Homo sapiens: one gene and its partners. The protein of the gene in region 1 binds, or shares a complex with, the protein of each later gene. Each region holds a gene or a part of one and is shown on either strand. Other genes may lie near its edges.

Region 1 (2,683 bases):
TCTGCCATGGAGATTTATAGACTAAAATGCCGAGACTCTGTATCATGTATTAGATCTCCTTTGAGGAAAGCATCTAATGAGAGATGATACTCTCATAGCGACAGGGAGATGTCCTTGTTGGTCTTATGATGGTCATCCCAAGCAGCAGGTTTCAGAGATCAAGAATGACATGTATGTAAGGAATGGTACTGACTCACTCCAAGTCCCATAGTAACTGACAATAGCCTCCCTTTTTTTGAGTCAGTGGTTTTCAGTATTTTTTTTCTTTTTGGCAGCAAAACTCTCTTCCACTTGTAATATAGTACTCTGATATATAAAATAGAATCAAGCAGAATTGCCCTGGACATGGGGAAGCTCAGACTTCCTGGCTTCCCTTTCAACCCCTGCAATGGCCTCTGAGCAGAATCCTGGGATTCTTGGGAACCATTTGAAAACTGCTGTTGTAGGTCAGCCTTTCTCAACCAGGGTTCCCCATCTTAAACATAGAGAGCTAAATAAACTATTTTCTCAGATACTCTAATGATGGGTCATGACTGATATCATTCTAGATGTCTACGAGAGAAGTTAATTCATTGCACACGGTGGCTGCTTTGGGGCAGTGGGACTTAATTCTCTTGTGGAACCCCAGTTGAGAAAGGCTTAGATGAATGCCAATCTTAGTGTACCAGAGTATGCCATGGAATCAGGCCAGGATGAGCTCAGGTACTTAGAGATTGGTTCCAAACATTTCTTTTAGGAGAGCTGTCTAACAAAGTGTACCCCTTCCTTTTCAGGAAGAATATGAAGACTCAAGTGGGAATGTTGTGAATAAGAAGACATACGAGGATCTGAAAAGACAAGGACTGCTCTAGTGTTCAGGGATGTAGCTCAGCTTTTGGGCTAGCCCAGGCTTCCCTAAGATCTGCTTTTTCTATTTCTCCCAACCAAATCCTCTTAAAGACCCTTTGCTATGTAGTCTCATGGTCTAGCATGCATCTTGTAGAAACAAGGCATGCTGGCAGATTGCAGGGTTGAGATGTGTTTTATCTGTTTTATATTTTAAAAGATTCTGCCAGAAAATAAAACCAGACCTTGTTCTAAAGCCCAGGGTTATGGACCAACTCAGTGCTTCAGGTCTTAACGCCTCCATACCTCTTCCTCACCAACTTTACTAGTAGCTGAGATTTAATGGGCACCTATTATGCTACATATCATGTTAGGTAAATCTGACCTGACCTCTTTCCCCACCCTCCTTTGTTGCTGCTTCCCTGAATGAGTATTACCCCAGGATGAGGTCTGCCATCAGCTTAGTTAGCCATTGATGCAAATACTAGGGAAAGACTAGGAGGATGAGCCAGGGTTGCTACTAAGGACTAAGTGTCGCACCAAGGTTTGCCTTTTGTATTTGCATAAAGAAAGGAGTTGGAGCTGGGTGCAGTGGCTTGTGCCTGTAGTCCCAGCTACTTGGGAGGCTGAGGCAGGAGGGTTGCTTGAGACTAGCCTAGGTAACATAGTGAGACCCTGTCTCATTAAAAAAAAAAAAAAGGCATGGTGGCACGCACTGTAGTCCCAGCTACTCAGGAGACTGAGGCTAGAAGATCCTTTGAACCTAGGAGTTTGAGACCAGCCTGGGCGATATAGTGAGGCCCCATCTCAAAAAAAAAAAAAGGGGGGGGGGGGGGAGTTGGGCTGTGTTGGAATGGGCCTGCAGCCCAACAAACAAGGGAACTAGGACCGACAGTGACTTCACCAGCTTGCTAGGTCAGAATGAGAGACTGGTGGGTCTGTCTACCTGTTTCTTCTACAAGATCCCTATTTGACTGTAAAAGTAGCTAATACTCACATGTTCTCCAATCCCAGGTAGCCATGGTAGAGTTGGGTAGAGTTGAGCAGCTGCCCCAGGATCCAAATGTGGTGTCTGAAATGGAAAGAACTAAGGCAACCAGGAAGGCACTGATCTGCCTTATAAGCACAGTCATCTGAAAGTCAGGCCTGCTGCAGGACAGGATCCCCCAGAGACCCCATTTGCCTCTCAACACTCAGACCTTCAACTGTTTTTTAATAAATCTACTTTTTAAAAAAATGTTAATCTTTTTCTTTATATTACACATTTATATCTTATTTTTCTAAAAACCTACCAAGAACCAGTGCCGCACTCATCCCATGCAGAGGCAGGCTGGCTAATATATCTACTTTTAAAAATTCCAACTCAGGCCATGCGCAGTAGCTGATGCCTGTAATCCAAACACTTTGGGAGGCCGAGGGCAGCAAATTACTTGAGGTCAGGAGTTGGAGACCAGCCTGGCCAACATGGCGAAACCCTGTCTCTACTAAAAATACAAAAATTAGCCAGGCGTGATGGCATGCACCTGTAGTCCCAGGTACTCAGGAGACTGAGGCAGGAGGATCACTTGAACCCAGGAGGCGAAGGTTGCCATGAGCCGAGATCACGCCACTGCACTCCAGCCTGGGTGACAGCGAGACTCCGTCTCAAAAAAAAAAAAAAAAAAATCCCAACTTGAATTAGCCTTCTGCCTCACACCAATCTTTTGCCCTGGTTATTTCCATGGCAGTAAAGTTTCACCACCCCCACCCCAGTGGCACTGCACTCTAGGTTGGTATTTTCCTTCCTAGTTCAGCCCATCCCTGTGCAACTCATTCCCTTGTGCCTTCACTCCTTCATTTAAGACTCCAGGTCGGGTGC
Region 2 (7,135 bases), on another chromosome or scaffold:
AACTTTTCTGGTAAGTTCTCTCGTTACCATCTTTTGAAATTTTAAGTGAATTAATACATATCTTGCTTAGTCTCTTGTGCAGGAAATGTTTTCCATTTATGACAAAACAGTTGTTGGTAAATGTAAACAATTCAAATTATGAGATGAGGTGTTAAGTTCTGGTGCATTATCTGTTACCTATTTCAGATGCATTTCCTAGTTCACAAATTGTGTAATGATTCTTGTCAGGGCACACTTTTCTTGGCTGCTTACCTAGTGCCAAGTCGTGTGCCTATTGCTGTAAGACATACTGAGATGTGTAAGACCTGATCTTTGATCTTGAATTTGACATCAGGTTGGGTAAAAAGAATGTCTGAAGGTGTTTGTCTGGTTATCAGAGAGTAATTTAAATAAAGGGAAGGTTGGACCTTGGTTTGGTGCTTGAAGAGATAGAACTTTTGTATGAGAGAAAAGGGAAAATGCAGTTTAGGTAGGGAGTGCTGTCTGCATAGAAACAGATAATTTGCTTACGTTTACCATGTGGGGAATATTTTTGTAAAGATGGATTAAGGCTAGGTTTGAATTGTGTGAAATTTCAAATATTGGATTAGGAAATACAAAGTTACTGAAAGTGAGGTACTAATGTTTATAAAATAAAAACTTTTTCTTGCCATTTGCAGATTTAACATTTTTGAGTCAATCCAAGTAATGCAGGAGGTTCATGATTGTGTAGAGTAAGACATAATTTTGTTGAGGTTTAACTCTGAATACTTAATGTGGTACTGAATACTTAATGTGGTACTGAGAGGCAGCCTAACTGACCACACAGCATTCATATTTCATGTTGTTATTTTCTCTGATCCTCATTATGGCTCTTCCTGCGGGTTTGAGTCTTCATTTGGGTAATTTAGTTATTCTTTGCTGCATTTGATTAAGGAAATACGTATATGGGAATTTGGAGATTTGTGACTGACTTCACTATGTAATGCAATGAATCTCAGCTGGAGTTTGGATAGAATTTTTGAAAGCACGTTTTTGTTTTTTGTTTGTTTTGTTTTTGTTTTTTGTTTGTTTTGTTTTTGTTTTTGTTTTTTCCTTGAAACAGAGTCCTGCTCTGTCACCCAGGCTGGAGCGCAGTGGTGTGATCTTGGCTCACTGCCACCTCCGCCTCCTGGGTTCAAGCGATTCTCCTGCCTCAGCCTCCTGAGTAGCTGGGATTACATGCGTGCACCACCATGCCCGGCTAATTTTTCATATTTTTAGTAGAGATGAGGTTTCACCATATTGGCCAGGCTGATCTCGAATTCCTGACCTCGTGATCCACCCACCTTAGCCTCCCAAAGTGCTGGGATTACAGGCATGAGCTACTGTGCCCTGCTGAAAGCACATTTTTAATACTAATTTTATCTTTCAAATTCCTTTTCCAATTCAGTCTTCCTTTTTATCTAAAATGATGGAGAAGTTTTCTTTTTTTTTTTTTTTTTTTTGAGACGTAGTCTTGCTGTGTTGCCCAGGCTGGAGTACAGTAGTGCGACCTCGGCTCACTGCAAACTCCGTCTCCCAGGTTCAAGCGATTCTCCTGTGTCAGCCTCTGGAGTAGCTGGGATTATAGGCACGTGCCACCACACCTGGCTAATTTTTGTATTTTTAGTAGAGATGGGATCCCACCATGTTGGCCAGGCTGGTTTCAAACTCCTGACCTCAAGTGATCTGCCTGCCTCAGCCTCCCAAAGTGCTGGGATAACAGGTGTGAGCCACTGTGCGTGGCCTTTTTTTTTTTTTTTTTTTTTTTTAGAGACGATATCTTGCTGCGTTTCCCAGGATGGAGTGCAATGGCAGGATTATAACCCACTACATTCTCTGAACTCCTGGGTTCAAACTGTCCTCCCACGTAGCTGGGACTAGAGGCACAGGCCATCACACCTGACTAATTTTTTTTTGAGACGGAGTTTTGCTCTGTTGCCCAGGCCGGAGTGCAGTGGCACAGTCTTGGCTCACAGCAACCTCTACCTCCTGGGTTCAAGCGATTCTCCTGCCTTAGCCTCCCGAGTAGCTGGGATTACAGGCATGTGCCACCACGCCTGGCTAATTTTTGTATTTTTAGTAGAGACGGGGTTTCACCATGGTGGCCAGGCTGGGTTCTGGTTGTTTATGATCTTTATTTTTTGGTGATCTAGGAACCAAACAACAAGAAATTGTTGTTTCCCGTGGGAAGATCTTGGAGCTGCTTCGCCCAGACCCCAACACTGGCAAAGTACATACCCTACTCACTGTGGAAGTATTCGGTGTTATCCGGTCACTCATGGCCTTTAGGCTGACAGGTGGCACCAAAGACTACATTGTAGTTGGCAGTGACTCTGGTCGAATTGTTATTTTGGAATACCAGCCATCTAAGAATATGTTTGAGAAGATTCACCAAGAAACCTTTGGCAAGAGTGGATGCCGTCGCATCGTTCCTGGCCAGTTCTTAGCTGTGGATCCCAAAGGGCGAGCCGTTATGATTAGTAAGTGATTTACTCTACTTGCTGTATATGCCTAGTTTAGGATAACAATGCTGTGCTCTTGGTGGTGTGCCAGTGCCAATTAATTACTTATGTGGGTTTGGCATCATGTTTGGATTTACTCTAGGTTTAAAGTTGCATTTCCTTTTTAAAAGAGTTGCATTTTCTTTTAAAACAATGGGAAAAATCTTAACACACCTTTCTACTTCCCATCTAGTTGGAAATGGGTGTTTTTCAATTTCTTTTTCTTTGGCAAAAAGACTACAATGAAATGATCTTATGTTATTAGACAGTGAATATCGTTGCTTTCATCAGCCTGAAGTGATGATTCACATTCATGTCTCTTCTCTGATAAATTCTTGAAGAAAATTTTTGTGTGTCTGATCAGGCCTCTAGAGGGCAGTCATAAATCGTTAGATCTATTTCAGAGAATAAGGCTAATGATAATTTTATGAATTACTGTTTTTCAGTATCCTTAAATGTAGGACTCATTAAAAAATTTTGACTAGTTAGTGGGATATTTAAGACCTGTATTAGGAAGAAGGGGGCCACAATGATGCCATTGTCTTTAAAAAAATTTATTTATTTATTTTTAAGAGATGGGGGTCTCAGCCGGGCACGGTGGCTATTTATCTTTAAAAGAGATGGGGTCTCAGCCAGGTGCGGTGGCTCACACCTGTAATCCCAGCACTTTGGGAGGCCAAGGTGGGAGGATCACTTGAGGTCAGGAGTTTGAGACCAGCCTGGCCAACATGGTGAAACCCAGTCTCTACCAAAAATACAAAAAATTAGCTGGGTGTGGTGGTGGGTGCCTGTAATCCCAGCTACTTGGGGCAGGAGAATCGCTTGAACCCGGGAGGCAAAGGTTGCAGTGAGCCGAGATAGCGCTACTGCACTCCAGCCCGGACGACAGAGTGAGACTGCATCTCAAAAATAAATAAATAAATAAATAAATAAATAAATAAATAAATAAATAAGAGAGAGATGGGGATCTCACAATGCTGCCCAGGATGGTCTTGAATTCCTGGGCTCAAGCAATCCTTCCTTCTGTCTTGGCCTCCCAAAGTGCTGGGATTACAGACTTGAGCCACTGTGCCCAGCTCCACTATTGTCTATTCTTTTTTTTTTTTTTTTTCAAATGAGGCAGAGTTTCGCACTTGTTGCCCAGGCTGGAGTGCAGTGGTGCGATCTCAGCTCACTGCAACCTTTGCGTCTCAGGTTCAAGCAATTCTCCTGCCCCAGCCTCCCAAGTAGCTGGGATTAGAGGCATGCACCACCACACCTAGCTAATTTTTTGTATTTAGTAGAGACAAGGTTTTACTGTGTTAGTCAGGCTGGTCTTGAACTCCTGACCTCAGGTGATCCACCCACCTCAGCCTCCCAAAGTGCTATTCTGATGATAGAAAACAGAATCCTGAGTTTTTATACTTGTAGAGTTACTGCTGTTAATAATGATTAAAAGAAAAGCATGATGTGACTCTAGCTGTTCTATAAGTCTCTCTTCTCATTATCTGGGAATCTTGTATGTTTTATCTCCTTCAACTACAGGTGCCATTGAGAAACAGAAATTGGTGTATATTTTGAACAGAGATGCTGCAGCCCGACTTACCATTTCATCTCCCCTGGAAGCCCACAAAGCAAACACTTTAGTGTATCATGTAGTTGGAGTAGATGTCGGATTTGAAAATCCAATGTTTGCTTGTCTGGAAATGGATTATGAGGTAATGGGGACCCTGTCTCTTTGCGTTTCTTTCAGTCACCTCAGTGTTTTTTTTTAAGATTGTTTTCCGGCCGGGCGTGGTGGCTCACGCCTGTAATCCCAGCACTTTGGGAGGCAAGGCTGGCGGATCATGAGGTCAGGAGATCGAGACCATTCTGGCTAACACAGTGAAACCCCATCTCTACTAAAAATACAAAAAGAAAATAGCCGGGCATCGTGGCGGGCGCCTGTGGTCCAGCTACTCGGGAAGCTGAGGCAGGAGAATGGCGTGAACCCGGGAGGTGGAGCTTGCAGTGAGCCGAGATCTCGCCACTGCACTCCAGCCTGGGCGACAGAGTGAGACTCCATCTCAAAAAAAAACGAAAAGATCGTTTTCTTCCTTGTGCATACCTTTTTTTCTTTTTTTTGAGACAGTCTTGCTCTGTTGCCCAGGCTGGGGTGCAGTGGCACAATCTCAGCTCGCTGCAACCTCTGCCTCAGCCTCCTGAGTAGCTGGGACTACAGGTGCTGCCACAACGCCCAGCTAATTTTTGTATTTTTAGTAGAGATGGGGTTTCACTATGTTGGCCAGGCTGGTCTTCTGACCCCAGGTGATTGGCCCACCTCAGCCTTCCAGAGTGCTGGGATTATAAGGCCTGAGCCACCTCACCCAGGCCCAGCCCCTTATGCATATCTTAATTCTGTCCTGCTAGCAGATCTTCATATTCCAAATGCCTTACTGAAATTCTTTGGGATGCTTCAGAGGTTAAGCAACTATTTAATAGTCTTTCTCTGATTTAAGTAATCTCCCTATGGAAACAAGATATTTATTGGGAAAAGCTTCATGAAAAACTTGAAGCTATGTTTAAGGTATTTTTTCACAGAACATACTATTGTTTTCCTTTAACGGAAGGCAGTATCCTCTAGTAGAGAGCTCCCTGGATCCAGAATTTGGAGATTGCAGTTCTCGTTCTAGCTCTGCCATTATCTTATAGCATAAACTTTGTCAAACTATTTGGCGTCAGCCAGGTGTGGTGGCATGTGCCTATAGTCCTAGCTGCTTGGGAGCCTGAGGCCCAGGAATTCTAGGCTGCAGTGAGATAAGATTGTACCACTGCAGTCGTGTACAGTGGCTCACGCCTGTAATCCAAGTTTGGGAGGCCGAGGCGGGCAGATCACCTGAGGTCAGGAGTTCGAGACCAGCCTGACCAACATGGAGAAACCCCATCTCTACTAAAAATACAAAATTAGCCAGGCGTGGTGGCACATGCTTGTAATCCCAGCAACTCGGGAGGCTGAGGCAGGAGAATCACTTGAACCTGGGAGGTGGAGGTTGTGGTGAGCTGAGATCGTGCCATTGCACTCCAGCCTGGGCAACGAGCAAAACTCCGTCTCAAAAAAAAAAAAAGATCATACCTCTGTGCACTGCAGCCTGGGTGACATAGTGAGAACCTGTCTCTCCAAAAAAAAAAGAAGACATTTGTGGACTTCTGTTTCCTCATTTGTAAATTGGAGTCCTGATGTCCTTTCCAGATCTTCGATTTTATGCTGATGATTAGTTTTTATGCCACTATTCTCTGTAGGAAGCAGACAATGATCCAACAGGGGAAGCAGCAGCTAATACCCAGCAGACACTTACTTTCTATGAGCTAGACCTTGGTTTAAATCATGTGGTCCGAAAATACAGTGAACCTTTGGAGGAACACGGCAACTTCCTTATTACAGGTACTTTTCTTTCAGAGCTGCTTTGTACCCTTTTACTTGGTTCATTTTATGCCCAAACCTAATAGGTTTTACTTAAAGGGTTTGGGAATTAATCCATTTGTTGTGAACCTGAATACCTTATCTTTTGGACAGGTTAGAAGTTCATGTGGTGGAGTGATTTTAAAAAGTGTTGGGGATAAAGACTGCCTAGCTCCTTAATAACTCATATTCTACTGAGGGCAGGGAAGAGAAGTTGAAGGGAGCAGTCAGCTTGGAATATTGATTACTGTTAGTTGCTGTGACAGTTTGGCTGTAGTCAGTCTTTGCCTCTCATTCAAACCTAACTCTTTCAAAAGCCAAACAAAATGGACAGACCCCACAAGATGGAACTTGTGAATTTGAAAACTTAAACAAAATAGAAATATTTTTGAAGACGATTACCAGATTGATCCAAAAATAAATTAAGAACTTCAATAGACCAGCGTTAGAGAAATTGAAGCAGTAGTCCAAAGTCACTCTCCCAAAAGATTGAGGTCCAGGATTTTCAGGAAAGCTTTTATCTTCTTGTTGAGGGACATATATGTATTCCGTTTTAAAACAAGTTTCTCGGCTGGGCATGGTGGCTCACGCCTATAACCCTAGCACTTTAGGAGGCTGAGGCAGGAGCATCACTTGATCTCAGGAGTTTGAGACCATCCTGGGAAACAAGGTGAGATCTTGTCTCAATGAAAAAGTAAATATTAAAAAAAAAAGTAAAACAGATTTCTCTAGAGTAGAAAAAGAGTAAATGCTACTGTGCCGCTCTCTGAGTCTAGTATGACTACAGTATCAAAACTAGGGATGGACAGTAACAAAAAAAATTTGCAGGCTAGTTCATACGGTTGTAGATAGGAAAAGCTAACATTCCAGCAAATCAGATTCAGTGTTTTAAATGCACATAGCTAAGTAACGTTTTTGGAGGAGCTAAAAAATGGAAAATATTTTCATGGTTGGAAATCAGTTCACCATTGGAAAATACACGTTACTAATTGATTATATTAAAAGACTAAATGAGTACAGCTACATTTGTGGTCATCTGCATTTCAGCAGGCTTGGGGAAAACTGATCTAGTTCTATTTTGAATCATTTGCACTTCAACTGATGTCTAAAATAAGATGTTGTTTGGGGAAGATACTGGAGAATAAAAATAAAGGACAGCACTTACCTTTGTTAATACGTTAAGCAGATGAATTTTTGATCACACATCTCATTA
Region 3 (5,390 bases), on another chromosome or scaffold:
CTGCACTCCAGCCTGGGCAACAGAGTAAGACTCTGTCTTCAAAAAAAAAAAAGAAAGAAAGCAAAGCACTGAGACATTGGTGTAGAAATGGAGGTGATGCCTACCCCCACCATGGAATCACGCTTCAATTTAAAAGTTGTTAAACATGTTGACACAGTTTTTTTTTTGTTTTTGATATAATCCTGATTTTCCTTGGTGAATAAAAGAGAGGTATTAGAAACAGTTTATCAAATTCTTAAAAAGATTTTCTTGAATATTGGCTTTGTACAAAAGTCTGTGCTATTTTCTGTGAGGTATCTGAAACTCAATAAAACAAAGGTCCTGCCTTCTGAAAGCACTCACTCTAATAGGAGCTAACCCCACACACACACACACATGTCAAAAGCCATAACTTTTATTCTCTACTCCTTATTCTTCTCAGGTCTGATCATTTTGTATAAAGCAAATTGGCTGCTTCTCCAAAATTGAGTTTTATAAGTGGGGAAGTCCAGAGTTCTGCCAACTGTAGTTTTAGAAGCCTCAGATTTATGCAAATGAGTATGATTTTATATTTTTTATTTTAAATCAGATTTCAGTAACTCCCTGCCAGCTTATTTTTGCTTTTTGAAGAACCTTATGGGAGGAAAGCCACAATTCTCTATAGTTCCTCTTTAGCTGATGAGAAAAATGAAAGCGTGTAAGAAAGATAGATGCGCTTAAATGTTTCCTAGAAAGTATAAGTCACCTTCAATAGAAATTTGTAGATAGGATATCTTCATTTATATTTGTATATAGTTGAAATTCAAGCTGATAATGTAGCTTTTCCTGAGCCCTTTTTATGCATTGGTACTTGGAGAGAGATTTGTTAATTCCCAGAGGGAATCTTAAATCATTTTGTTGTTATAGGGAGATTTCCACCCGAACTCTAGGCTACTAGAAACAGCAGTACTTGAATGTTCTTAATAGGCTCATAGTTGCAAGAAAGCAACAGCTAAGAATGTATTTTATTGCATGCTTAATAACAGCTCCTTATTTGTATGGTTCTGTTACAATGTGGTAGGAGACAAGACGAACAGTAATCCTTACGATGTTTATTCTGTGAGTTAAAATAGCATCTTGGAAGCACAAAAATCAATCTTAGGACACTTAGTCAATAAAAGGGATATATTGCTCTCTCTCTCTCCATTACAACATTTCTGTAAATAGGAATGTATCCAAAACACAAAGCAAAGGGCTCTTATCAGTGTGATGTTGATGCCCATGCAGAGCATAGGAATTAGCAGTCTGACTGAATATGCGCCACAGGACTTCCACCATCTTCTCCTGCTCTGCCACTGTAGGCCCCTTCTGCTGCCTGCCATACTTGTCCATTTCCTTTGTTTAAAGCAGGGCAAACCTATAGGAGTAGCAGTGTATGTAGTAGTATAATTTTATTTGATTTTGAGTTTTTAAAAAATTGTATAGAATGAAAAACACAACCTTAAGCAAAACCTTTTTCTGTTTGTTGATTTATCAGAACAAGAAATTGGATTCTCAGGATTTATAGTTAAAGAAGGGAGCAAACCCATTTTAATCATGCATATTTTTCAGGATGATCCGTTGGTGCTGAATGAGATCAGAGAAGACCTTCGAGTAGAGTGTTCGAAGTTTGGACAAATTAGGAAACTCCTTCTCTTTGATGTAAGTTCATGGCTTGGACATATGGATCCTAAAGCAATAATTCCTCCACCTTATAAGTTCTTCTCAGATGTTAGTATACCCCTGAATTTTAGATTAATGTTTTTATATAGTAGTCCACTATCTTGTGATAATCATCTATTAGCAATAATGAGATGAACGTGGATTACAAGCCAAGGATTTGATAGATTTGGTATGCCTTGCTTATTTTCCGTCTTCATTACCCTAGAGTACATGATCAGGTGAAAGAAGGTACAGGAAAAATGTATGAGATCTCTGGTTCCCTATTAGTCACATTTTCCCCTCTTTGTGAATTATTCTCATCCTCCATATTTGGAACAATCAGGGACAATATTCTCCTGTATATTTCCTCTTCTCATCCTCTTTTTACTTCCAGAATTGACACCCAATAATTAAGAGTCACCATTTATTGCTTGTGTATTACAAGCTACTTTACATGTTATCTCACTTCTCAAAACCCTTTGAGGCAGGTTAGCACTATTACACCCATTTTACAGATGAGGAAGCTAACACTTTAGAAATTGAACACCTGGCTCAAGGTTGTTCATTTGGTAACTGACAGAGCCAGGATTTAATCCCAGGGCAATATGACTTCAGAGTTTACACTCTTAACAATTATACTGTCCTGCTTCTCATTAGACAGGGATGTCAGCAGAAACATTTCCAAGGACATTGTGCTTGGTTCTTGCTAGGTAAGATTGAGGTAAAGAAGCAGCTGACTGCACGTGACTGGCTGGGATAAAATGGAAGAAAGACTTCATACATAAAGTCTTTTACTTCAGAGTATCAGAGAGAACACTACTACTTACCTACTTTGTGAAATGTATGTGTTTTATTTTTAATCTTATCATTCATTCCTTTTTTTTCTTTCTTATCTTTCTAGAGGCACCCAGATGGTGTGGCCTCTGTGTCCTTTCGGGATCCAGAGGAAGCTGATTATTGTATTCAGACTCTCGATGGAAGATGGTTTGGTGGCCGTCAAATCACTGCCCAGGCATGGGATGGGACTACAGATTATCAGGTAAATTTTGCTGCTTGTCAAGGGCACACACATTGTTTCATTACCAACAAATACTGATCCTTCAGATCTAAATTTTGGGTTTGGTTTAACCTATTTAATGTAACAATGCTTCTTTTATTTTTATTTACTTATATATTTTAATTTTTTACTCTTCCTCTTAATTATTTACAGTGCTGCTTTTAAATAATATTTTGCATTCAGAAGATAGAGAAATGTTTGAGTCTTTCAGTTTCTAAGTCTGAAAGTTTGAGGCTTGTTCAGAATAGTGATAAGAAAAGAACACATTCAACCAAATGTTACTCTTCCTTTGTATGCTGTAAAGTATAGACAGAGCTCAAATATTAACTTTTTAAGAGATGAGACATTTCTGCAGTACTGTGATATTTGGCCTTTATTTAAGTGGTCTTATTTAAGGTCAACTCTAGTAAATCAAGATGTAAAGTTTTGAAAACTGAAGATGGAATTGCTTTCATTTCCTAATAAGAGATGCTTTATAAAATTAAGGTTGTTTCATCAATATTAGATATGTTCAGAGAAGTAACCTTTTGCCTGAAACTTATTTTAATGGCAGTCTCCATTTATCCACAGGTGGAGGAAACCTCAAGAGAAAGGGAGGAAAGGCTGAGAGGATGGGAGGCTTTCCTCAATGCTCCTGAGGCCAACAGAGGCCTTAGGCGTTCAGATTCTGTCTCTGCTTCCGAAAGGGCAGGGCCTTCTAGAGCAAGGCATTTTTCAGAGCACCCCAGCACATCTAAAATGAATGCTCAAGAAACTGCAACTGGAATGGCGTTTGAAGAACCTATAGATGAGAAGAAGTTTGAAAAGACAGAAGATGGGGGAGAATTTGAAGAAGGTGCTTCTGAAAACAATGCTAAGGAAAGTAGCCCCGAAAAAGAGGCTGAAGAAGGCTGCCCTGAAAAAGAATCTGAAGAGGGCTGCCCCAAAAGAGGGTTTGAAGGCAGCTGCTCCCAAAAAGAGTCTGAAGAAGGCAATCCCGTAAGAGGATCTGAAGAGGATAGTCCTAAAAAAGAGTCTAAAAAGAAGACACTCAAAAATGATTGTGAAGAGAATGGCCTTGCAAAGGAATCTGAAGATGACCTCAACAAGGAGTCTGAAGAGGAGGTTGGCCCCACAAAAGAGTCCGAAGAAGATGACTCAGAGAAAGAGTCTGATGAAGACTGCTCTGAAAAACAGTCTGAAGATGGCTCCGAAAGAGAATTTGAAGAAAATGGTCTCGAGAAAGATTTGGACGAGGAAGGTTCTGAAAAGGAGCTTCATGAAAATGTTCTTGACAAAGAGTTAGAAGAAAATGACTCTGAAAACTCCGAATTTGAAGATGACGGCTCTGAAAAAGTGTTAGATGAGGAAGGCTCTGAGAGAGAGTTTGACGAAGATTCAGATGAAAAGGAAGAAGAGGAGGATACATATGAAAAAGTATTTGATGATGAGTCTGATGAGAAAGAGGATGAAGAATATGCAGATGAAAAGGGGCTTGAAGCTGCTGATAAAAAGGCGGAAGAAGGTGATGCAGATGAAAAGCTGTTTGAAGAGTCAGATGACAAGGAAGATGAAGATGCAGATGGAAAGGAAGTTGAAGATGCTGACGAAAAGTTGTTCGAAGATGATGATTCCAATGAGAAGTTGTTTGATGAGGAGGAAGATTCCAGTGAGAAGTTGTTTGACGATTCTGATGAGAGGGGGACTTTGGGTGGTTTTGGGAGTGTTGAAGAAGGGCCCCTATCCACTGGCAGCAGCTTTATTCTCAGTAGCGATGATGATGACGATGATATTTAATCCCTTAAACTTGCTTTTTAGGGAGAGTCCTCCATCTACATTTGCCTGTGCTTCAGGGTAATTACTAGTAGTGTTACATGAACATGTGCATAGTGGTAGGATGCCATCAGATTAAAGCATTGAAGTGTTTCATTGTTACCTGTACCTAATGGTTTTAAATATATGTTAATTGATTGTTTAGTTAAAATGTCATAGTTACAATGCAAGTAAACTGGATACTTGTTCTTTTGTCAGATTTGTTAAATGCATGCAGAATAATATTTTTAAGAGTATTGATTGAAGTTTGTGATATTCATCAATAAAAATGAGTTGATAATATGCAGAAACTGAAAATTGGACTTGAGTTAAATTGCATTTTAAATTCTTGATATTGCTTTATTTATACTGAAGGTTGGCTTTTCTGAGGACTTGAAGAATCTCTTTGGAGTCTCCTTGCTTCCCGCTGGTATTAGCACGTATGTCTCCATTTCCTCTCTATAAACCAGAACATGTTCCTAAACTCAGAAAACAACCCTCTGGATTTTTTTTTTCTGCCCAGTCCTTGCAAATTAACTCTTGTTTGTTTTCTACCCTCTTTCCATTAAAATTGACTCTCAGATGTGCAAAAGTGAACTTCCTGCAGTCTACAGCTCCCATTATTATTAAAAATCTAAAGAAACAGATTAGAATTCTACCTTGTACTGTTAGCGTCTCTGGGCCCCTTTAGAAGTTAATTCAAATTAGAGGACCTCTTCCCAGAAAAAAATGTACACACTACACTACACAACTTGTGTACTGTTTGGGGAGGTTCATGGATTCCCTGAAGTTGAAGAACTTCATGCATGCTTCAGTTGTTCGTTTTTTTAGAATCATAGTGCCTAGCACTGTGCAAAGTTGTGTAGTCCCAATAAAGTTATGG

What was found.
Region 2: SF3A3 (region 1) and SF3B3 share a complex: the UniProt entries of both Homo sapiens proteins name them as parts of the 17S U2 SnRNP complex.
Region 3: SF3A3 (region 1) and HTATSF1 share a complex: the UniProt entries of both Homo sapiens proteins name them as parts of the 17S U2 SnRNP complex.

The regions. Positions count from the first base shown.
Region 1 is NC_000001.11:37,956,354-37,959,036, reverse strand, and holds the end of SF3A3 (splicing factor 3A subunit 3), read left to right. Parts: intron 1-773; coding exon 774-851; 3' UTR 852-2,062; downstream 2,063-2,683. UniProt on the Homo sapiens protein: Component of the 17S U2 SnRNP complex of the spliceosome, a large ribonucleoprotein complex that removes introns from transcribed pre-mRNAs.
Region 2 is NC_000016.10:70,526,717-70,533,851, forward strand, and holds part of SF3B3 (splicing factor 3B subunit 3), read left to right. Parts: coding exon 1-10; intron 11-2,156; coding exon 2,157-2,483; intron 2,484-2,782; exon of another isoform or gene 2,783-2,883; intron 2,884-4,028; coding exon 4,029-4,201; intron 4,202-5,762; coding exon 5,763-5,904; intron 5,905-7,135. UniProt on the Homo sapiens protein: Component of the 17S U2 SnRNP complex of the spliceosome, a large ribonucleoprotein complex that removes introns from transcribed pre-mRNAs.
Region 3 is NC_000023.11:136,507,522-136,512,911, forward strand, and holds the end of HTATSF1 (17S U2 SnRNP complex component HTATSF1), read left to right. Parts: intron 1-1,569; coding exon 1,570-1,659; intron 1,660-2,560; coding exon 2,561-2,698; intron 2,699-3,286; coding exon 3,287-4,492; 3' UTR 4,493-4,825; downstream 4,826-5,390. UniProt on the Homo sapiens protein: Component of the 17S U2 SnRNP complex of the spliceosome, a large ribonucleoprotein complex that removes introns from transcribed pre-mRNAs.